Linked DNA regions of Homo sapiens. The protein of the gene in region 1 purifies or fractionates together with the protein of each later gene. This does not show direct contact. Each region holds a gene or a part of one and is shown in the gene's direction. Other genes may lie near its edges. The genes, in order: RAB11B, SERPINB5, LYG2, PLCD1, PI4KB, SH3BP5 and HEPHL1.

Region 1 (3,500 bases):
GCTGCTGCAGGAGGACAGCGTTTTGGTTGGTGATGAGCGTGAACACAGGGACCGCACAGACAATACCTTCCAGGGTCTGAGAGTCTGGAATGGAATCGCCCAGGGAGACATGGTGGGGTGCACCCCTCGTCCTCCCTTCTCTTGGATCTGTTTCGGATGTGCTGAAGGATTGATTCTGAGATGCGAGAGAAAGGAAGGAGTCGAGAATGACTCCAGGTTTCTGGCATGAGTGCCTGGTAGGACCAAGCCAAAGTTAACCAAGATAAGGAGGGTAGGTGAGCGGTGGGTGAGCAGGCTTAGGGAGTGATCGGGAGCTTGGCTCTGCTCTTCTGGGTATGAGGGGCCTGGGGCCCCTGAGGAGACATGAAGGAGACAATGGGCACGCCAGTCTGGGCTTCTAGGGAGAGAGGTAATATAGGAGTTACCAGCCCATGGCTGGTATTTACAGCCATGAGCCTGGATGGGGTCACCTGGGGACTGGGTGTGGACAGAGATGCCTGTCCTGAGGCTCCCTGAGGTTCGAAGGTAGAGTGGGAGACTGAGTGGGAGTGACTGTGAGGAGAGGAGTCGGGGTGTGGAGCCCCTGCAGGCAGGGAAGGAGGGAGAGCTGGCTGGGTGCCTGCTGCACAGGCCCGGGGGAGTGGGGGTAGCTGAGGCTGACACTGACTGTGGGGGCGAAAGCGTGCTTGGTTTGAGTTCTAGGACTGGGGGACAGGAGGTGGAGTGAGTGAGTGTAGATGATACCTTCCAGTGCCCGAGGCAGGAAGTTGGGTCAGGAGAGAATGTTTTCTAGAGGGAAAATTCCAAACGTGTAGGTACAGCCCCACAGTGTGGCCAGGGGAAGGGCAGAGGAGGGCTGCCTGGTGGGCTCCAGGGCCTGCTCCCTCAATGTAGCAGGGGTCCCGAGTGGGGCCAGCGGACCTCTGGGTCAGCCAGGGCTCAGCCTGGCTGCCAGCACCTCCCCGAGCTCAGGAGGAACAGCCATACCCATCTCTTCCCAGACAAGGAAGCCTCATCCTCAGTGGATGCCCCCTAACTCCCTGGGACCAGGGATGACCAAGCCACTGAGCCAACCCACCCTCAGGTGCCGGGGCCCAAGGCCCACACTTGGGGGTCCACGGGGCTTCTGGCTGGGGCGTCTGGTTGGCTGTATTCAAGTGCACACACACACACTGATCTTCCCCACATGGTATGTTCTGGGTCTGGGGACAGCTCACCCAGACCCCACCCCAGAGCCTGGGGCGGCTGGGCCCATAGGGACAGTGCTTCCATGGCTGGGACAGGAAACAGTTTACAAGGCAGCTCACCCCTGGCCTGACCAGCAGGCACCTGCTCTGCTCAGGGAAAGTGTTCCTGATGCTCCTTGGCCAGCATGAGACAGGCCTGCTGCACACCCCGTGTCGACTGGGCTCAGGCCCCCGTCCCTGGGTGCTGTTGCCCACAAACCCTCATCTCTGTTCTGTCCACGCTGCGCTGACTCCTTTCTGGGCCAGGGTTTGCATCTTGGCAAGCTGCTCTGCTGTGCACCCCCCTCCTGGGACAATGCATACCTGTGTTGGAGCCTTGTGAGGAGCTGTGCACACACGTGGACTGCCACACGGACTGCCCCTTGAATGAGGACTTAGCCTTGGCTGGAGCTCCCTGCAGCTCAGCAGGGGACCTGACCCTGGGGACAGGGGTGGTGGGAGGTGGCTGCAGGCTCTTTCCTCCGGGCTGCGTCCTCAGGGCACATTCCTGTTTCCCACTCAGCCATCTGTGCCGAAGCTGGATGTGGGTTTGCTGCACCAGGAGAGGTGGGGGTTGAGGTGGGAGTAGCTCCTCATGTCCTGTCACTTACATACCTGGAGCAGTGACCCTTCCCATGCCCTGACCAGAAACCACAACAACCGTGACAGCTGCCTACTCGTGTCCCTTCCTGTGCGATGCCTGCTCTTTTCGTGGGGGGAGACAGAATCTCTGTTGCCTAGGCTGGAGTGCAGTGATTCGATCTCGGCTCACTGCAGCCTCCACCTCCTGGGCTCAAGCGATTCTCCTGCCTCAGCCTCCTGAGTAGCTGGGGCTACAGTAGCCACCACGCCCAGCTAATTATTATTATTATTATTTTTTTTTTTGAGATGGAGTCTCGCTCTGTCACCCAGGCTGGAGTACGGTGGCGTGATCTCGGCTCACTGCAAGCTCCGCCTCCCGGATTCACGCCATTCTCCTGCCTCAGCCTCCCAAGTAGCTGGGGCTACAGGCGCCCGCTACCACACCCAGCTAATTTTATTGTATTTTTAGTGGAGATGGGGTTTCACCACGTTAGCCAGGATGGTCTCGATCTCCTGACCTCGTGATCCACCCGCCTCGGCCTCCCAAAGTGCTGGGATTACAGGTGTGAGCCACCGCGCCCGGGTACTTTTTGTATTTTTTATAGAGACGGGATTTCACCATGTTGGCCAGGCTGGTCTCGAACTCCCGACCTCAAGTGATCCGCCTGGCTCATCCTCTCAAAGCATTGAGATTACAGGCGGGAGCCACCGTGCCTGGCCATGCCTGCTCTTACTTCCTCCTCCTGTGACTGCCTTCCTGTTCACACATTTGGAAAAAGTAGTCCAGAGGTGAAGTGACTTGCCCAAGGTCACCCCGCTCAGGAGCCTTCTCAAGCCGTGTCTGGCTGCCCAGCCACCAGGCTGCAGGTGGAGGCTCAGGGTTGATGGATCTCAAGCTGCTCTGCCTGCCTGGCTGCCTGGGTCCCCTTGCCCCAGCTGGGACAGCCCTGCTCTGAGGACCAGACACAGGCAGGTGTTGTGCTATCCGCAGTGGCTGTTTCTGGAAGGCAGGAGCCTGCCTTCACTTCTGCACCACTTAGCACAGTGCCTGCAGGCCCTGGGCTCCAGGCATCTCTCGACTCCTCCACACCGTTGGCAGCCGCGTTGGTGCAGCACCCAGGGAACCGGCGGGAAGGTTGTGGGGGCAGTCGTGGGTGGAGTGTGGGGATTCACAGAACCTCGCCTTCCCGCCCAGTGGTGCTCATCGGGGACTCAGGCGTGGGCAAGAGCAACCTGCTGTCGCGCTTCACCCGCAACGAGTTCAACCTGGAGAGCAAGAGCACCATCGGCGTGGAGTTCGCCACCCGCAGCATCCAGGTGGACGGCAAGACCATCAAGGCGCAGATCTGGGACACCGCTGGCCAGGAGCGCTACCGCGCCATCACCTCCGCGTGCGTGTCGGCAGCCTGGGCAGGGACGCTGAGATTCGGGGGCGTGGGCTTGCAGCGCGTGGGCTTGGAAGGATGTGTAGGAGTTGGGCAGGAGAAGGGGAGAGTGTGCTCCCAAGACCAGGGAGTGAGGCTGGAAGAACGCTTTAGCCATGCGCCGTGGGACCCTCAGGCTGACCAGCGCCCAGCCTTCGCCACACCAGGGTATCTCTGGGTACCAAGTGCAGTGAGGACCTAGCTCAGGCCACTCCGCCTTGCCGCTGCCCCTGCCCAGCCAGCATCCCAGCCTTCCTCCTCCCTCAGC
Region 2 (3,500 bases), on another chromosome or scaffold:
GAACAAATGCCAGCAAAGATGCAATTAACAAGAAAGCAGGTGATCAGGTGTGGCGGGGAAGTGCCAGGCTGGGAGCTAGAAGCAATGAATTCTAGGTCTGGTTTTGCCACTCTCACTCCCTGCGTGGGTGGCCTGGGAGACTCACTTCATCTTTGTCTGCCTCATTTTCCTCATCTGTAAAATGAAGAGGTGTGGCCAGCCTAGATCCTCTCCAAGATCTTGTCCCACTTTCAAGGTTTATAATTTGCACAGATTGCGAAAGCAAGGTACTTGGAAATAAGTTCTTAAAACTGCATTTGTATTACTGCTTGAACTTCCATCTATCTCACTTTCCTATGGTTAAAATAAAGTTCCTTTTAAACTTTTAAGTGCTGAAAGATGTAGCGTTTTCTACATTGCAACTATAAACGAAGTTCTCCTTGTTAAAATGGTTACAGGGTTTTCACAGAAATGGAAGAAGACCCTTGTGACAAGGCAACAGAATGAAAAAAAATTTGTAGCAATTTTAGCACTTTCAACAGAAGTCATTAGGCACATTAAATTTATTATATAGGAATTGCTAATCTCTACTCTGGTACTTGCAATTTTATAGCATTTGATCATGCAAAATGGTCTGTGTAGGAAGTTTGTATTTTTTCCAGGTCATGTATTGTTAACATTGCTGAGGTTTGTTTAAATGCTTTGATTGTCTTGCAACACAGTCATGTGGCAACTGTGGCCAAAGTCATCTTTTGAGCTACCTCAGACCAGATCAACTTTATAGTGTTTTTAGGTCACTTGGGACTAATCACAGAGCCACTGATCAGATTTACCGGGCAGTATTTGATTGATTACTTAGTGGGTGATTTTTTGCAACTACAACCTTTTCCATGTACAGACCTTTTCTGTTTCCTTTAGCCAGCATCAAACAATGCTCTTGCCACTGGGACCCCAGATACTAAGGGCTGTATGACCTTCCCAGACATGAAGGAGAATTTTCTGAGAAAGGAGCCAGTCAGCATAGGAACAGGAAGGCAGATCTCTTTGCGTTCATGCACTGAGGATTAGCATGCAAAGGAAGGGACTCACTCAAAGGGAAGGTCCGCCAATGGTGAGAGAAAGCCCCAGAGATGTTAGGATGTCAGATGTGCACTGATTTACATCTCCAACAGGGACCTGGATCTAAGCCTTGAATTGCAACACAGCATTAATTGTATTGTGTAATTAACTACACTAAAAGCCACAATGATCTTGTATCCACAATCATTTAGACTAAATGTATCTCAAAATGTTGTGACAAGTGAATGAATAATGCTTTAGTGAAATAAAATGGTAAAATGAACATCTCCTCACCATTTGATCCACTCCTAAGATCCATTTGTAGGTGTTTGCAGCCAAACTCCCTCAGCACATTAAGATCTTAAACACCATCTTTCTATACAAAGGAAATCACTAAAAGTATAGTTTGTTATTGACTATGCAAAATTATTCTAGTTTCTCTTGGAGGATAATAAATACGTGCTTGGAGGAGCTACTTGTGTTTGTTAAAGCAGTTTGTGTGTTTTCATATTATTATCAGTGCGATTAGCTCTCCACTGGTGGAAGTGTTAAGAAGCTTTCAGGGATCTGGGTTTAGGCTTCTCTATTTGGTGAAGAAATAACTCATTACTTCTTGTACATGTTGAGTTTTACTTGTAGATGAACTTGGCATTACTAATATTAAATGTGCTGTGGAAGGAAGCCAGGTTTCCTATTCTGAAAGTCTGTCCACAGATTCCCCAAACCTTTTGTGAAGAGTTTCTTTATGTTTTCCCAGTGGCAGGCACACTGGGTGAAACACTCAACAGGCTTTCATTTTTGCCTCAGTATACCCTGCTGACCTCAGTATACACCTAATGCCAGTCACCTTTCCCTGGGGTGTGATGTCACCTGTAGGCCCTTGCCCCTGCCCTGAGGGGAGAAGGAGTAAGGTTGTGGGCTTTAAAGAAAAGTGAGAGGCCCACCTGACTTCAGGGGGCCTCGTGGTATATTTGCAATGGGAACTGGCCTGAGCGCATGGCTGTACTTATCAGGGACATATGGAGAAGGAGGAAGCCCATGGAAATGACCAGTGAGCATGAACAGAGTCAATAAAACATTATTTTTGGATAATGAACTCGCTTTTTCAGACTCTGAGATATAATCGATTTAAGTCCATCCTACACACAAGCCATATATCCCATAAAAGGGAGAATTCTGAAGAAATGTTTAAAGACCAGGAGTCCTCTCCTCCATCTTATTCTCGTCTTTGCATTCTGAATTTGTGTCCAGGTATAAGGTGCAAATTGCAATCCTATTCATCATGCCTTTGACTCTTGACACACGTTTGGGTACTGGCCAAAGGGAGTCCTCTATCTTAAGCAGTGGAGCTTACTTTCTAATGCCAGGGTGCATGTCCTACCTGAAGACCTTCAATGTCACATTCGGCCCTTGTGTCTGTGTGTGTGCGCCTGAGGCTTTGGGGGAACACTTCGAGTTTAATCCCTGTACTGCTCACCCCGGGGTAGTAATATCAATTCATTTCCCTTAGAAACATGCTGTCCTGGCTTAGGCAGAACCTCAGGAGTTCATGTAGTTCAGCTCTGCTCCCAGAAAGGGAAGCCCTGACTGCCTGAATTTACCTAATTGTCTTTGGAGTCGATCAGTAACTACCAGACTAAATAGGTAGGTAGACCTTTATTAGAACAGTGAAGCTTTTTAAATCTGAGGACCCTGTTACACTCTTAAAAATTACCGAGGACCCCAAAGAACTGTTTCTTTAAAAAAAATGTAGATTATATCTATCACTATTTACCAAACTAGAAATGAAAACCAGACACATTTTGAAATGTTCATTTACTAATTTATTAAAATAATATAATAATTAAATACTAATATGAATAATATATATATTAAAAAACATTTTCTAAAGTGAAAAAATGTAATGAGAAGAGTGATATTGTTTTTCATTTTTGCAAATCTCCTTAATATTTGGCTTAATAGAAGGGATGTCATATAGCCTCTGGAAAACTCCGCTGTCTATTAGAGATTGAGAATGATAATGTCTTAGTATTATCATGAGAATAGTTTTAACCTCATGGACCTCCTGAAAGGGTGTTAGGGACTGCCAGGAGTCAAGACACAACACTTTGGAAGTTGCTGTGTTAAAATTAAAGAGCTCTGAGATGTGACAAGATGCCTAGTTGCTGCTATATCCACTTTACCAGGCTACATATTTTGAAACTGTTCCCTCTTTTCTTTAACTCCCATATTACTTATTATACCACTCACATGTCTTGGGCAGCTCTGTATTCTAGTTATTTGTCTGCATATCTGCCCAAAGAGACTATGAGCTTAGAGAAGGAGGAGGTCCACTGATCCTTGTAACACTCTGGGTAGTGTCTTACACACAGATGCGTATTATAAACGCAAACAATAACCGCTGCTGTTTATTAAGTATTGTTATGTGCTGGGTGTCCTGCAAAGGCATTAGTTACTTTAAG
Region 3 (3,921 bases), on another chromosome or scaffold:
AAGAAACAGTTTCTTTTCTTTTTTTAACTTTAAATTCTTTTTTTTTTTTTTTTTAATTAGAGATGGGCTCTCACTATGATGCCCAGGCTGGTTTCGAACTCCTCCTGGGTTCAAGCAATCCTCCTGTTTCAGCCTCCTGTGTAGCAGGAACTGACTTCAGGCACACACTACCATGCCCGGAAAAACAGTTTCTTTTCTATTGACGTAGGGATCCGTGGTTCTGAAATGTTTGCTGAGATGGATTTGAGGGCCATAAAACCTTACCAGACTCTGATCAAAGAAGTCGGGCAGAGACATTGCGTGGACCCTGCTGTCATCGCAGCCATCATCTCCAGGGAAAGCCATGGCGGATCTGTCCTGCAAGACGGCTGGGACCACAGGGGACTTAAATTTGGCTTGATGCAGGTATTTAGCTAGAAACTTTCTATCAGCCCCACTGCATCCCTCCTCACAGAAGCTCAACCTGAACTAGAAATCCATTTGCAGTGCTTCCAAGCCCCAAAATACCCTGGCATCTGGCTACAGGTACTCCAGCATAATTTTTTTTTTTTTTTTGAGATGGAGTTTCATTCTTGTTACCCAGGCTGGAGTGCAATGGCGTGATCTCGGCTCACTGCAACCTCCACTCCCGGGTTCAAGTGATTCTCCTCCCTCAGCCTCCTGAGTAGCTGGGATTACAGGCACACGCCACCATGCCCAGCTAATTTTTTGTATTTTTAGTAGAGACGGGATTTCACCTTGTTGGCCAGGCTGGTCTTGAACTCCTGACCTCAGGTGATCCACCCACCTCAGTCTCCCAAAGTGCTGGGATTACAAGCTTGAGCCACTGTGCCCGGCCACTCCAGCATAATTTGATCTGGGATTTCTGTAACACATCTTTTTATTTTATTCAAGGCTTATTCATTATTAGATATATTTTAAAAAGTATTTTAGGAGTTTCATAACTACCATTCTGCAATAAATAATATGTAATACACTAAAACTGAGAAAATCTTATAAATAGCATTATTGTTACAGGTGTCCTCTTGGGGTTCATGAAGTAGTAAATTTCATCCATGTGGATCAAAACATGGTATAACTGTGCCCTACTTGAAACAACTTGTTCCTTTGGGTAAACTGGAGGAAGGGGATCCAAATTATCTGGATATTTGCTTCCAGGCTCGATTTTAAATTGTCTGTAGAAATACAGACTTCTGGCCTTCCCAGTTAGAAACAAATTTTTATCTGAATTAGCTGGATAATTATTTATTACTATAAATGTGTAGACTTTGGGTGTTATTTGTTTCAAAACAACTTAAATTTTTTTTTTGTATATTAGAATGTTTAGCTAAAACTATACCATGTCCATTTCTCCCAAACCTTACTTTGTTTCTCTGACTCTCATCTATATGAAAGAAAGAACAATAGAATTGACTCTTTGGGGATAAAGGCCGGTATCTATGACTTGAATACCAGGAGAGGAAATTAGGAATGGCAGAAAAAATGTGTTACCTCATCCAGATGCTGACTTTATTATCTGAATTTTCTAGCTTGATAAACAAACGTACCACCCTGTCGGTGCCTGGGATAGCAAAGAGCACCTTTCACAGGCTACTGGGATTCTAACAGAGAGAATTAAGGCAATCCAGAAAAAATTCCCCACGTGGAGTGTTGCTCAGCACCTCAAAGGTAGGCTGTATTCTGAGTACTTTGTTTAAATGAGCAATGAATGAGACCACTGAAGGCCAGTGTGACCCGAGACTCCCTGGGAGCATTTCCACGGGGTCAGCAGTGGCCCTGGGAGGAGCTGTCTAGAGGCTGCATTTGCATTCCCTGAACCACTGAGTTACTTTGAGAGGTCCTCCATCCTCAACCTCCATTTCCTCTTCTGCAGAATGTTGGGGTTCTTATTCATTGCTTACTGAGCTATTGAGTGATACCTTGAAACATAGTGAGACCCTGTCTCTACAAAAAAAAAAAAAAAAAAAAAAAAAGCTGGGCATGGTGACACACAGTCCCAGCTACTCAGGAGGCTAAGCCAGGAGGATTGCTTGTGCCTGGGAGGTTAAGGCTGCAGTGAGCATTGATTACATCACTGCACTCCAGCCTGGGAGACAGAGTGAGACCCCATCTCTCAAAAAAAAATTTATCTATCTATCTATCTATCTATCTATCTATCTATCTATCTATCTATCTGTTTGCCTACCTCTCATAGGTTTTTTCCTGTTATAAGAAACTGTCAACAACTTTCCAAATTGTCTGAACAATGTTACTCTGTGAGTATTTTCGGGACTTCAGGTGCTATATATCCAAGTGGAAATCTCTGCTTGGCTGACCACAGGCCCCCTCAAGTTCAGCATCTCCCAGATGGAATTAACTCACTAACTTCCCACTATAAATTTGCTCTTTCTTCTGCATTTTACATGTCTTGGAGGCACCATAATATAGCCAGTCATCCCAGCCTGAAAACCAGATTGCTTTCTTAGGCTCTCTGGTTCCTTCTCTCTTCACACCCAACCACATCAATTCCTATTAGGTTTGCCTCCTATTGGCCAATGTTATGTCCTCCACACTCTAACGGCCTTAATCAGAACAGTTTCTAGTCTCTACTTCAAGGTCCTTGAAGGCAGGGATCAGGACCAGGCATCTTCCTCTCTGGATATCAGAGCAGAGCACAATTATGTTAAACACATACATAACTACTAGAGATAAAATTCTAGGGTAAAATAGCACACACATGCATATGTACACATACCCAAAGAAATAAGTGTGTCTTGGGTACCTTGCAGTCAGTGTGGCACCTCTCCTGGCACATAGTAGGTGCTTGAAAACATTTCCTGAATGAATAAATGAGTGAGTGAATAGATGAGTGAATTATTGAATAAATGAGAGAATGTTACAAGCATTTTCAGCAGAGGATGTACTGGGAGTCTAGTTCTGCCAGGCCTGGATTACATAAAAAAGCAAATCTGATTTTTGCAACAAGAAAAACCAAAGACTTTGGAAAAAGAGAAAGAAAGCAATCTGGAATTTTCCCAGTGATTCTTGGGATAGCACGTCCTTTCAGAAAGGGAGGGAGAGGGAGGAGGATTTGGGACTGCCTGCTTTGGAAGATTTGCCTGGAAAGCTAACATCTTGGCAATGCTCATTGCTTATTTCTGTTGAAAGTTAATATTTGAGCCTAATTCTCTGTGTTTCATTTCAGGTGGTCTCTCAGCTTTTAAGTCAGGAATTGAAGCGATTGCCACCCCATCGGACATAGACAATGACTTCGTCAATGATATCATTGCTCGAGCTAAGTTCTATAAAAGACAAAGCTTCTAGGCAAAGCTCTGTGGGTGGGCCAGGTTGGCAGAGTGCTCAGATGGCCGCCTTTGAGAGTTTTACGTGAATGTGTTGTATACAACACTGGCAAAGAAATGATTAAAATCATGAAAGAAAATTCATTTCCCAATTTTCTGAATGAAAATAAGCATTGAAAAAAGGAAAGAAAAATAAAAGAAATCCATCCAGTTCACAATATGGTTCCTAGGAAACGGACATAGACATATATATAATTACTTTGCAGTAAATGTGAATATCATGGCAAATGGTCCCTAGGTATTCCAGCCAGGCTTCATTTTAGCCTGTGATTCCAATGCCCACCTACTCCCTGTCTACCAGAATTGCTAACAAGTTAAGTAAGCCTTACCCGAGCCTTTGTCTTTTTTCCAGTATCTGCCCAGAGCCCTCAGGCTTTGCTTATGAGAAGTTCCTGACTCGTAAGCCAGCCAATCCATGGGACAATGGAAGAAATAGGGATGGAATTCTAGCTTCATGGGAAACTGAGAGCCAACTGAGGTGAAGCTGTCATTCAAGTTAGATACACCAAGTCCTTCAAACCCACAGCAACCTCCTGTGTTTTCTTTTGTCTGTGAAGATCCAGGGACTGGCTTTTCTTAT
Region 4 (2,824 bases), on another chromosome or scaffold:
CCACCTAGCAACTGAAGGGGAAGATCCTGCTGAAGGGGAAGAAGCTCGGGGGGCTCCTGCCCCCTGGAGGGGAGGGTGGCCCTGAGGCCACTGTGGTGTCAGACGAAGACGAGGCTGCTGAGATGGAGGATGAGGCAGTGAGGAGCCGTGTGCAGCACAAGCCCAAGGTTTGAGGGGGAGCTGTGGGGTGGGGCAGCCCGGGCCTTCCCCATCCCCTCACCCGTGGGAGGTCTGCCTTGTCTCAGTTCTCTGTGGCTGCCACTCAGACCCTCTGCCCCGCTCTCTCTGTCTGTCTCCCTCTGTCTCTCTGCGCCTGGGTTTCTGGCTTTCTCAGTGCCTACCCTACCCCAACCACTGAATCTAACCCGGGCCTCCCCGTGTTCCCCAGGAGGACAAGCTCAGGCTAGCACAGGAGCTCTCTGACATGGTCATTTACTGCAAGAGTGTCCACTTTGGGGGCTTCTCCAGTCCTGGCACCCCTGGACAGGCCTTCTACGAGATGGCGTCCTTCTCTGAGAACCGTGCCCTTCGACTGCTCCAAGAATCAGGTGAGGCCTGGCTCCCCACCACTCCCCTGCTCTGTTACAGAGAGAATTGGCAGGGCAGGGCTTGGGCCTCACCAGGAGGCCTCCACTGCTGACCGAACCACACCTCCCCTCAGGAAACGGCTTTGTCCGCCACAACGTGGGGCACCTGAGCAGAATCTACCCGGCTGGATGGAGAACAGACTCCTCCAACTACAGCCCCGTGGAGATGTGGAATGGGGGCTGCCAGATCGGTATGGGCTGGCTGGGGCTGGAGGAGGCCTGGAGGAGGGTTTCAGTCCCAAGGCCGGGGGCCTGGAGCCTCGAAGGCCATGCAGTGGAGCTCTGAGGACCCAAGCAGGGTCAAATGCAGGGGCTTGTGGAGCTGGTAATATCAGTCTGGAAATATCTGCCCACCAGCATGTCACAGTGTCTGAAACCTCATTAGCACACTAGTCCTTTGAATTCTCACACCAGGAATGGAAGGTGTGGTTAGCATGGTGGGTCACTGAGGGTGGCAGGAGGGCAGCAGGCATTGGAGTGATGCTGGGCCCTGCTAACTCACCATGTGACCCTAGGCCTTAGTGTACCCTGAGCAGGCTGTGCTCTAGGGCCCCAGGGCCAGCCCACAGCCTGTGACTGCTCTGTCCTGCCTGTAGTGGCCCTGAATTTCCAGACACCTGGGCCAGAGATGGACGTGTACCAGGGCCGCTTCCAGGACAACGGGGCCTGTGGGTACGTGCTGAAGCCCGCCTTCCTGCGAGACCCCAACGGCACCTTTAACCCCCGCGCCCTGGCTCAGGGGCCCTGGTGGGCACGGAAGCGGCTCAACATCAGGGTACGCTGGACCTAGGAGGGACAGGTGCCCACGGACCTCCCTTCCCCGCTACCACTCCTGAACTGTCCATTGTCCTCTGCCTTTCCTCAGGTCATTTCGGGGCAGCAGCTGCCAAAAGTCAACAAGAATAAGAATTCAATTGTGGACCCCAAAGTGACAGTGGAGATCCATGGCGTGAGCCGGGACGTGGCCAGCCGCCAGACTGCTGTCATCACCAACAATGGTAGGTGCTGGGCCTGGGCTGGGCTACTAGGGCTGGTGTCCATGCTGCTGATATGGTGCCTGTCCCCCTAGGTTTCAACCCATGGTGGGACACGGAGTTTGCGTTTGAGGTAGTTGTGCCTGACCTTGCCCTCATCCGCTTCTTGGTGGAAGATTATGATGCCTCCTCCAAGAATGACTTCATTGGCCAGAGTACCATCCCCTTGAACAGCCTCAAGCAAGGTGAGTGTCAAGAGAAGGGGATGGCCAAGGTGGTGGGAAGCAGGGCCTGGCGTCTCTTGGGCTGGGGCTGGCTGTCCCTTGACGCATCCACCCCCCCTCCGCCGCCGAATGACCAGAACTCTCTCTGTGTTCCCTCCTGCCTGTCCACCCACCAGGATACCGCCATGTCCACCTCATGTCTAAGAACGGGGACCAGCATCCATCAGCCACCCTCTTTGTGAAGATCTCCCTCCAGGACTAGGCTGGAGGAAGCCAGTGGGGTCCCCCCTGAGTGGGCTGGGCCCTCTGTCCACATGTGGGGACAGGGCTGGTGTGGCTGCTCCCAGCCTCTTGCTCAGAGCTAGGCCCCCAAATTGCCTTCAGCCCTAACATAGTGTCTGCTGCTGCCTCCCTGGGGACCAGGAGCTAGCCCAGTCCCTGGAGCTGTCCTTCATTCCGTTAGGAATAACACTGCAGCCCTCTCCACCCTCCGGCCAGCGAGTGGTCAAGGATTTTTATAAAAATCACGATAAGATTAAGCCTTGTGGTCTCTTTACCTGGATGCCAGAAAAATCCCCTGTGAAGCGTGTGTGTGTGTGTGTGTGTGTGTGTGTGTGTGTGTGTGTGTGTGTGTCCCCATGTCCTAGAGTGCTGGAGCCCTAGCACCTCACTCTCCACCTTCCTTGCACATAGTTGAGTAGGGCAGGGGTATCTGGAGAGACCAACGAGAAATAAACCCCTCTGTGGGGTGGCACTGAGAGCTCACACCCGCCAGCCCTGGAGGCCCCTTCCCCTGAGAGGTGGACCTGCTGAGTGGCCCGGGCTTGAAAGCACGCATACCACAGCTCGTATGGGCTGCCTGCTTTTACTGACACGCAGAGGATGACCAAAAGCCTCTGAGGGGAGTGGAAGCAGGGCCTCCCCAGCATTGTAGGTATGTTGGGGTCCAGGGGATAGGGGCAGTCGAGAGGGCTTGGGTTCAGAAGAAGCCCAGCTGCTTTTTCTCCTGCCGCTGCCTCCACGTGGCCATGCTGTAGAA
Region 5 (2,556 bases), on another chromosome or scaffold:
GAAAACCCTGTCAGACACGTGTTTCCTCATGAGGGAAATAACAGTCAGGTAGCTTTTAGACCCTGTGCTCATTCCACCCTGCGCTCATTCCACCCTGCCAGCCCTACAAATGGACCCAGGCTCTGCATTTGAGAGCTGTAGGAGAATGTAATATTTTTGTGTGTGTGTGTGAGACAGAGTCTTGCTCTGTTGTCCAGGCTGGAGTGCAGTGGCGTGATCTCGGCTCACTGTAACCTCTGCCTCCCAGAGTTCAAGTGATTCTCCCACCTCAGCCTCCTGATTAGCTGGGATTACAGGCATGCGCCACCACGCCCAGCTAATTTTTGTATTTTTAGTAGAGACGGGGTTTCACCATCTTGGCCAGGCTGGTCTCAAACTCCTGACCTCAGGTGATCCTCCTGCCTCAGCCTCCCAAAGTGCTGGGATTACAGGCGTGAGCCACTGCATCCGGCCGAGAATGCAATTATTTATAAGGAATTTGATTGCAAGCTTCAGACTATCTCAAAGTGTCAGGATTTTGAACTCAGGGCCCAGGGAGCCTAGAGCTCAGTCCTGGGATTGAGTAAATGGGTGGCAGGGAAGCTGGCACTAGTCAGGCCCCAGGGCTTTCCTTTAGGGAATTAGTATGTTTGGAAGATGAGAGTCCATCCTCTAAAAAAGAAGGGATAGAGGAGGGCAGGTAGCTGATAAGCCGTTCATAGTACCTCAAAAAAGAATAGATATAGTCGAGCCATGAATGGAATCAACCAATGGAAAGAAGTGGCAACAATGAATGAGGCCCCATACTGGAGTCAGGTTTTAGGATCTCTTTAACTGCTTCAAAAGTAGTCCTAAGCAGCTTTCCAGCTGGAGCTAACTCTGGTAGTGAAAAGAGAGGCTATGGCACCTTGGGCAAGTAAATCACTTCCTCTCTCAGGGCCTCTGTTTTCTTCACCTGTAAAATGTGAGGTTGAACCATGACAACTCCTAGAACCATTCTGGCTCACAAGATTGTGCCTGGATTGCTAAATCTTTAGTGTTTTCCCTGAGTGGGGAAGAACTCAGGTTGGACTAGGTTCTCCTTTTGTCCCTCCTCTTTTGGCCAAACCAACCCCAGAGAAGGTGGCCCTCAGACCATCAGCTCTTAGCCTAACAAAGCCTCTATTGACACTGAGTAGGCCAGTTATGCTGAATAGGCCAGGCCTCACATGCTTAGCATGTTAATTGTTCCTTCTGCTACTGGCCATTCATGTGGGAATCACAAAGACCTGGGATTTATCTCCCTTTAACTCTTCTACAGCTGCCCTGTAGTACTGCCTCATCCTGAGACTTTTTAAGTAAGTGATTTAAAACTTACCCCTTGAAGCCCCCACGCTATTTTACATTTCAGCTCCACTCAGCCTGCTTGCTTCTGTTGTTGTTCCCTTCCAGTGAGGCCTCTGATCTGCAGTGGGCTGACAGGAGTTACAAATAACCCACAGGTAAACAGGCTCAGAATAGAGCCTCCCCTGAGTAGAGCGCTTGGCCTCTGTGACAGCTGGCTGGAGCCTCAGAGGCCCTCTTTCCTTGCTTCTGGATTCTCTACTAGATTGGGATAGTTTGGGTGCCAGAAGTGCAATTTCTGGGAAATTGGGAGAATCTTAAACTATTTTTATTAAATTATTAATAGCAATTTCAGACCCCATAGCCTTTGTTAGCAGTTTTCTGATTTCCTTTCTTTCCACTGATAGCTTTAGGTCCTAGGAAACTGGACAGGAGATTGGAGTTACGGGCAGCAGGAAACATGGCAGGGGACCCCCCTCCCTGGTGTCATGTGGCCAGTGTATTGCTGCTTAAGGTTCCAGCCTCAGTCAGACTGACTACTGCCTCTTCCTCTCCTCTATTCCCCCTCCTCAGACACAATGGGAATATCCTTTTGGACGCAGAAGGCCACATCATCCACATCGACTTTGGCTTCATCCTCTCCAGCTCACCCCGAAATCTGGGCTTTGAGACGTCAGCCTTTAAGCTGACCACAGAGTTTGTGGATGTGAGTCAAGAAGGAGAGGTGCCTCTCGGGGGTCATTGTATTCTTTCTCTGTCATGGGAGAGGGAGCTGATGGGCTCCCTGCAAATTAGGGATGAACAGAACAGGCAGTAATTAGGGGTGAGGCAGGAGTTCCTGGGAGCTTCCTGCCCAATAAGGAAGGGGGAAATAACAGGGCCCCAAGAGGAGGAGGAGTTCTGGTAGGCCAGTCAGGACAGGGACCATCCCCGGTGTAAGACCCCTTGTGCACACAACGCTCTCTTCCCTTTCCAGGTGATGGGCGGCCTGGATGGCGACATGTTCAACTACTATAAGATGCTGATGCTGCAAGGGCTGATTGCCGCTCGGAAACACATGGACAAGGTGGTGCAGATCGTGGAGATCATGCAGCAAGGTGGGGCTGGGGTGAGGTCAGGTGCTATAGTGCCTCAGGCTTCCCCTTTAAGTCGGAGCCCTGGAGCATAAGAAAGCTGATCCCACGAGACTCGGTTGAGGGAGGGGGGTTCCCAGAGAGTTTCTAGCTCTGGTCCAGTGCCTTGTTTCTCCTTTAG
Region 6 (2,867 bases), on another chromosome or scaffold:
GTATTGATCACTGAGGTTGTTTCCAAGTGCTGTTCTGGGGGGGCTCCTGGCTCCACTCAGCTTCTATAAAGTAGAGCTTAGGTCCTATGTCTCACATCAGAACAGTCTCCTTGGCAAGCACATAGTAGAGAGGTTTGTTTCTCAGCAATAAAGTGAATATGGCAAATTTCATCTCTATAGCTAAGGAATATATAAAACATCACAAGGAATAAAAGCAGTAAATGATTATGTACTGAGAACCTCTCTGATAGGCACGGTAGGTAACAGTGGGACTTCTACAGGGCTGAGTTAGCTGACTGGTTTGAGCTCAAGTGACTTAGAATTGTCAATACTCACTTTTGATAATCTTTGTATTTCTATAGGAGACAGGGCAGAATTGTCAATACTCACTTTTGATAATCCTTGTATTTCTATAGGAGACAGGGCAGAAGGGGCAGAGAATAAAACAAGTGACAAAGCCAACAACAACCGGGGCCTCAGCAGTAGCAGTGGCAGTGGTGGCAGCAGTAAGAGCCAAAGCAGCACCTCCCCTGAGGGCCAGGCCTTGGAGAACCGGATGAAGCAGCTCTCCCTACAGTGCTCAAAGGGAAGAGATGGAATTATTGCTGACATAAAAATGGTGCAGATTGGCTGATTCATCCTGGGCCCTGGCCGATGTGCATATCAACATTTATACATGGAACTGGAGAACATTGTGCCAATAATCATTTAATATATGCCAAATCTTACACGTCTACTCTAAACTGCTCTAATGAAGTTTCAGTGACCTTGAGGGCTAAAGATTGTTCTTCTGGGTAAGAGCTCTTGGGCTGGTTTTTCAGAGCAGAGTTCTTGTTGTGGGTAGACTGTGACTAGGTTCACAGCCTTTGTGGAACATTCCGTATAACGGCATTGTGGAAGCAATAACTAGTTCCTATGAAAGAACCAGAGCTGGGAAGATGGCTGGGAAGCCAGGCCAAAGTGGGGGCAACAGCTTGCTTCTCTTTCTCTTCTCACCCTCAGTTTGTATGGGAAAATGGAGATGTCCTCTCCACTTTATCCCACGATATCTAAATGAAAAAGAAAGAAAACCCACACACAAAGCAAAAACTCAAGTATTAAGAGCACATATTTTTGACCCAGTGGAGGCTTAAAAAAAAAAAAATCCAAGAACACAATTCATTTTCACCACCTCTGGTGTTCAGAGGGGGCTTTTAAAAAAGCGTGTATGCTGGGATACCCATTAAAACCATTTTCTAGAAGGCTACCATGAGCTGCACTTTTTGGGGTGGGAAAGGTGAATGCCAGTGGGGATGCGGGGGGATGAGGGTAGGAGGGACTTATAGAAGGGGATTTGTGGCTGTGGGGGAGAAGGTTCTACAGCATAAGCCTTATCCTGCCAGCCAAGGGGATTTATTCTAAGAGAAGTGCATGTGAAGAATGGTTGCCACTGTTATTAGATTGACAAGATGTTAATTTCTCTGTAGGTTGTAACTTTAAAAATAAATGAAATTATTTAAGGGTTATGCTGCACTAGTATTCCTTAGAGGAAACAGTTCTTTAAAGTTAGGAAAGGGAGTAGGCAGGCATGTGTTGGCAAAGGCTGTTAATAGTAGTTAAGTGTTAAGACTGCTTTTCTTTAACGTTTTCATGGTAATGCATATTTAGAGCACTGTATTTTTGTCTTGTTAAGAAAATTTAGCATTTCTAAAAGAAAAAAGCAACCCTCTTTCAAACTGTTAATTCTGTCACAGCCTGTATATTTTAGTCATTTGTAAATCTCTTCATACAATAGTGACTTCTTTTTTGACTGATACAGTATCTTAATTACAAGGTTATTTTGTACTTGTCTTAATACACTAAGTGTAATAAAAACGGCTTGAGAAAAGTTTCTCCTTTCTGTGACTTCAAATAAGAACTCCCAGTATTGCCTAAATCTTCTAGGCAACCCTTTTTCCATAAGGAAGAGCATGGAGTGCTGTGGTCACCAGTAATCATTTTCAATTAATTAAGGTCATGAACAGTAATAATTTAAGCCTTGTTTACCAAGGTTTGAATTCTACTTTTGCTGTTGCTAAAGCTGTGGGCAATGAGGAGACACAGTGGCAGATAAAGACGAGGTGGTGACGCTGGAGGAGTGGGCCTCGGCTGCACACTGCAGTCTCGAAGCTTAAGTGTTGCTGTCAGTCAGTTCTCATCCCCAGAGAATTATTTAATTAATTAACTGGGGGGGGTACACTGGGGCATTAGACTTTTAAAAGCTCCCCGAGGGAATTCAAATGTGCATTCAGAGTTGAGAATCAGATGGATTCTTTCTTTTGTGGAAATGTTTTATAATATTGGACTCTTAATCCGCATTTCATTATTAAAGCATGCTGTGGAGAAAAAGTTCTTGGTTGGCCAATCATGAGGTTTAAGTTTCAGAAATAACCCTTTGCAGTATCAAACAAGTGTTTTACCTAGTAGTTAATAAATATTTCATCTAGGAAAGTTCATAGAAGTCCCTTGTGCTATTTAAGAACATTAAACAGCCGGCTGGGCCCAAGGGCTCATGCCTGTAATCCCAGCACTTTGGGAGGCCAAGGCTGGTGGATCACTTGAGCCCAGGAGTTCGAGACCAGCCTGGGCAACATAGTGAAACCCAGTCTTTACCAAAAATACAAAAATTGGCCAGTCTTGTAATTTGGGTCTCAAGCAAGAACACTTAACAGCATACCTGAATTTGACTAGTGACCTTCAGGGTTCATTCAGTTCTCATAAAATCTCCTTACACCCTTTTACCTGTAGTAAAGACACTGAGACTTGCTTGACTTACCATTAGCAAAAACTTCCCTGCAATTGAGGCAATTCTTTTTCCTCCTAGAAGAAACACCATCTGGAAAATAGCC
Region 7 (3,500 bases), on another chromosome or scaffold:
AAAGCTATGGACATACATTGCCACATTCTCTTTTGGAAATTGTTATTCTTCTACACGAAGTGTATGAGTATGGCTCTTTCCCCATTCATCTACCAACACTGAGAATTATTAGTCTTTCTAATCTTTACTAATCTGATCAATGAACAATAGTATCATTTGAAAACTGTTAAGGTTTGAGTACTATTTGAGTACTGTTAAGGTTGAACCTCTTTTTCATTTGTTTATTGGCCAATATTATTTATTTTGTGAATAAACTATTTCTGTTCCTTGCTCATTTTCTATTGGAGATTTACTTGTTTTCATCTTTATCTGTAAAAGTGATTTACGTATTAATCTTTTGTCATATGTGTCACAAATATCCCTCCTGTTGCCATTTATCCTTTTTAAAAAAACTTTCTTTATGGTCCAATTTTCTGTACAGAAGCCTAAATGTTCAAGAGCCAAATCTATCAGTCTTTTCCTATATGATTCCTTTTGTGATCATTTATGCCTCAGCTCGTGGTTTTCCTCTGTTCTGCAGCTGGTATGCTGGGGCAATACAATGTTGATAACTGCAAAAGTGATATTTTCTACCCCAAGATGAAGGGTCAACAGAGGCGCTACTTTATAGCAGCTGAAAAAATTCTTTGGGATTATGCTCCTCAAGGCTATAACAAATTCAGTGGTCTTCCTCTAAACGCCTCTGGCAGGTAAGCACCCTTTGTTGGTGTTTCTAAGCCTCTCGTCAGAGAAGCATGTGTTAGGCTTTCTCTGTGATCTAATTTGTATTCCAACCACTGCTCTGATGAGCTTATACTGCATAGATGGCATAATGTAGCTGCTTAAGGTGTTCTTAATACTGCAAAAGCACTGCTGAGAACTGGTAGAATATTTTTTGTTTTGTGACTTGACGGCTGAATCAAAACACTAGATCATTCACTCATTGATCAAACATTTCTTGAGTAGGCACTATGTGCAAACTATAGTGCAAAGTGCCATTAGAAATACTAAGCTGACAAAGAATAGAGTAAGGCCTTTACACATATGGAGCAGACAGTCTTGAAGAGGGAATGACAGGAGATGGAGATGACCTGGCCTAAGAGGGTTACCCTTTTTGGTTCAAGGATATCCTGATTTAAGTTGTGTCCCCTTTATGTCCTACAAATATTCTTTTCCTTTCTATTCAGTAAAATGCCATTTTTCTTTCAAAGCCTTACTCTAATGTCACCTCTGAAGTGAAACCTTTGACTCTTGATATAAATGAATTATGTTCTCTCTGCGCTCCCATAGAATATACTATTTAAAAAATTAATCTAGCAATTTATTAGGTGGATCTGGACTCCTGTGACTTGTTAGTATATAATCATATGCAAAGTTGTCTGTGAAGATACTAAAAAATGTACAGTGTGATATCAAGAATCCTTTTTTATATTTAAGGGAATGTTTTAAAAATTCTCTTTGTGATCAATAAAACATCATTTGTTTCTTTAATTGTACATTTTATTCATTCATTCATTCATTCATTCATACTTTCACTCATTATTCTACCAAACGGATGCACTTGAACCCTGTCTAAAGAATTTGTGTGAACCATATGTGAAAGACTCTGATATCAACATTCTCTATTGACTAGTATTTCTCCATAAACAGAATAATGAGAATTAGCATTCAAAATTGTCTTAGGAGCCTTCTAGAATTCTGAAGTGCCTTCTGAAATAGGAAAGATTAAACTATATTCAATCAATGTTTAATGTGATATATGAAAGCACAAAGTGCAAGATGACATGAGGGATGCAAGGATATCTAAAGCAATAAAATGCAGAGGAAGAAGCTGGGTTCACAAGAGTAGAGAAGTAACTGCAAGTTACAAATAAAAGTGAGGTGAGTTGTCCTGGTAGTGAGTTATCTGGATGCTCAGAGAGAGCTAAGCTGGCCAGGGAACACATTATAGAGGAAGTGAGACTTAAGCAAAATCTTAAGGAGTGATAGAATTTATTTAACTGAATAGGGAAGAGAGGAATTTTAGATGGAGGGGTTGATGCAAAGCACCTGTGGCATGGGAGGAATGAACAGATGAGACTGCAGTAACAATTTGCATAGAAGAATGGGCACTGGCATGGAGAAATAGAGAATTGGGGTAAACGGGATATCAATTGCAGAGGTCCTTTAATCTTTTTGAACATTATTTGATTGGCAATTGGAAGCAATTGAAGATTTTGGAGCAGGTAAATAGCAATAACAATTGCCATTTTGGAGATTAATGTATTAAGTGAAAAAATAAGCACAGTCTTGGCCATTGAAAGTAATTTGTAATCACGGTCTTGGCCATTATGACCATTATGGCTTACTTTTGCACCAATCTAATAGTTGTGTGTCTATGCTGAGAAGAAAAGTGAATGAGCCAGTATCAGATAGAGGATGCAGTTCAGAGGTTCATATAATGGGCTCCACCCAGTGTGATTAGGGCATGAACTGGGGTCGTGGTAGTGGGAAGAAAGGAAAAGAAAAGATGCACAAGGAGGATAGAAAAGGAAGAGTGCCAAAAAATTTTACAAAGTAAGGATGAATGAGTTAAGGGAATGAAGCAGAAAAAGAAAATCTACGTGGCTGCAAGAGTGATGGCACCATTGATGGAAATAAGATAGTATAGAGACAGTATTAGTCAGAATTTATATTATCATATTCACGACTTGGAAATTTTGCATTTCATGCATATGGTTTATATGGTAGCCCTCCAATAATTACACTATTTGATTAACTAGACACTCCATTCCTTAATAATGCCAGAAATCAAAGAGCTTACTAGATGCAGAGAATATTCATATTAATATCAGCAAGAGAGAGAGGGATGCTTATTCTGCAGAGAAACCAGTTAGCTCTTTGTTACTTTGTAGAACACCATTCTGGAACTCTACTATTGGTAAATAAGGAGTTTACTTGTGACTGGTTCAGTGCTGGACCTCTTGGGAAGAAAGTACAATGGCTGAGAGAAATGAGCTTGAGTATCACCCAGCCTCTGAAGACTTTTAGGGCTGGTTAACTATTCCTGGGAACTCTGTCAAGGCCTGTGCTGTCTTTTCTGGGGACATGGGTGGGCGAGTGGACTAAAAGTGATAGAATGAAGTTCTATAATTAAAGTATTTGGTGGATATGTTGAGAAGTGTCCTCAATCACATTCCTATGTCTTTTCAGTGACTCTGATCTCTACTTCACACAAGGGGACAACAGAATAGGAGGAAAATACTGGAAGGTTCGGTATACTGAATTTGTTGATGCAACTTTTACTAAAAGAAAGAGACTCTCTGCTGAAGAAGCCCATCTTGGAATTCTTGGTACAGTAAAACCATCCCCCATGCATTGAACCCAGGGAGATGTTTTAGCTGGGCATGTACATCTGCACAGAATGACTCTTCTGCTTTACTTCTTTCTGTCTCTTTTCATTCTCTTCTCTCTCTTCTTCTGGATATTTTTTCAGGCCCAGTCATCAAGGCAGAGGTGGGTGATACCCTGTTAGTGACCTT

The links.
Region 2: the proteins of RAB11B (region 1) and SERPINB5 purify together in Homo sapiens (affinity purification with mass spectrometry; 2 studies listed by BioGRID and IntAct, with this or other methods). This does not show direct contact.
Region 3: the proteins of RAB11B (region 1) and LYG2 purify together in Homo sapiens (affinity purification with mass spectrometry; 2 studies listed by BioGRID and IntAct, with this or other methods). This does not show direct contact.
Region 4: the proteins of RAB11B (region 1) and PLCD1 purify together in Homo sapiens (affinity purification with mass spectrometry; 2 studies listed by BioGRID and IntAct, with this or other methods). This does not show direct contact.
Region 5: the proteins of RAB11B (region 1) and PI4KB purify together in Homo sapiens (co-immunoprecipitation; 3 studies listed by BioGRID and IntAct, with this or other methods). This does not show direct contact.
Region 6: the proteins of RAB11B (region 1) and SH3BP5 purify together in Homo sapiens (affinity purification with mass spectrometry; 4 studies listed by BioGRID and IntAct, with this or other methods). This does not show direct contact.
Region 7: the proteins of RAB11B (region 1) and HEPHL1 purify together in Homo sapiens (affinity purification with mass spectrometry; 2 studies listed by BioGRID and IntAct, with this or other methods). This does not show direct contact.

Annotation. Positions count from the first base shown.
Region 1 is NC_000019.10:8,396,860-8,400,359, forward strand, and holds part of RAB11B (ras-related protein Rab-11B), read left to right. Parts: intron 1-3,003; coding exon 3,004-3,199; intron 3,200-3,500. UniProt on the Homo sapiens protein: The small GTPases Rab are key regulators of intracellular membrane trafficking, from the formation of transport vesicles to their fusion with membranes.
Region 2 is NC_000018.10:63,479,958-63,483,457, forward strand, and holds part of SERPINB5 (serpin B5), read left to right. Parts: intron 1-3,500. UniProt on the Homo sapiens protein: Tumor suppressor. It blocks the growth, invasion, and metastatic properties of mammary tumors.
Region 3 is NC_000002.12:99,241,746-99,245,666, reverse strand, and holds the end of LYG2 (lysozyme g-like protein 2 precursor), read left to right. Parts: intron 1-208; coding exon 209-405; intron 406-1,529; coding exon 1,530-1,668; intron 1,669-3,184; coding exon 3,185-3,303; 3' UTR 3,304-3,421; downstream 3,422-3,921. UniProt on the Homo sapiens protein: May act as a potent antibacterial protein that may play a role in the innate immunity.
Region 4 is NC_000003.12:38,006,996-38,009,819, reverse strand, and holds the end of PLCD1 (1-phosphatidylinositol 4,5-bisphosphate phosphodiesterase delta-1), read left to right. Parts: intron 1-8; coding exon 9-167; intron 168-388; coding exon 389-548; intron 549-661; coding exon 662-778; intron 779-1,183; coding exon 1,184-1,362; intron 1,363-1,452; coding exon 1,453-1,585; intron 1,586-1,656; coding exon 1,657-1,806; intron 1,807-1,961; coding exon 1,962-2,047; 3' UTR 2,048-2,324; downstream 2,325-2,824. Other genes in the region: VILL (villin-like protein), read right to left, coding at 2,765-2,824. UniProt on the Homo sapiens protein: The production of the second messenger molecules diacylglycerol (DAG) and inositol 1,4,5-trisphosphate (IP3) is mediated by activated phosphatidylinositol-specific phospholipase C enzymes. Essential for trophoblast and placental development.
Region 5 is NC_000001.11:151,293,861-151,296,416, reverse strand, and holds part of PI4KB (phosphatidylinositol 4-kinase beta), read left to right. Parts: intron 1-1,875; coding exon 1,876-2,008; intron 2,009-2,278; coding exon 2,279-2,399; intron 2,400-2,556. UniProt on the Homo sapiens protein: Phosphorylates phosphatidylinositol (PI) in the first committed step in the production of the second messenger inositol-1,4,5,-trisphosphate (PIP). May regulate Golgi disintegration/reorganization during mitosis, possibly via its phosphorylation.
Region 6 is NC_000003.12:15,253,853-15,256,719, reverse strand, and holds the end of SH3BP5 (SH3 domain-binding protein 5), read left to right. Parts: exon of another isoform or gene 1-416; coding exon 417-634; 3' UTR 635-2,367; downstream 2,368-2,867. UniProt on the Homo sapiens protein: Functions as a guanine nucleotide exchange factor (GEF) with specificity for RAB11A and RAB25. Inhibits the auto- and transphosphorylation activity of BTK. Plays a negative regulatory role in BTK-related cytoplasmic signaling in B-cells.
Region 7 is NC_000011.10:94,069,854-94,073,353, forward strand, and holds part of HEPHL1 (ferroxidase HEPHL1 precursor), read left to right. Parts: intron 1-520; coding exon 521-689; intron 690-3,171; coding exon 3,172-3,311; intron 3,312-3,454; coding exon 3,455-3,500. UniProt on the Homo sapiens protein: Is a copper-binding glycoprotein with ferroxidase activity. It oxidizes Fe(2+) to Fe(3+) without releasing radical oxygen species. May be involved in the regulation of intracellular iron content.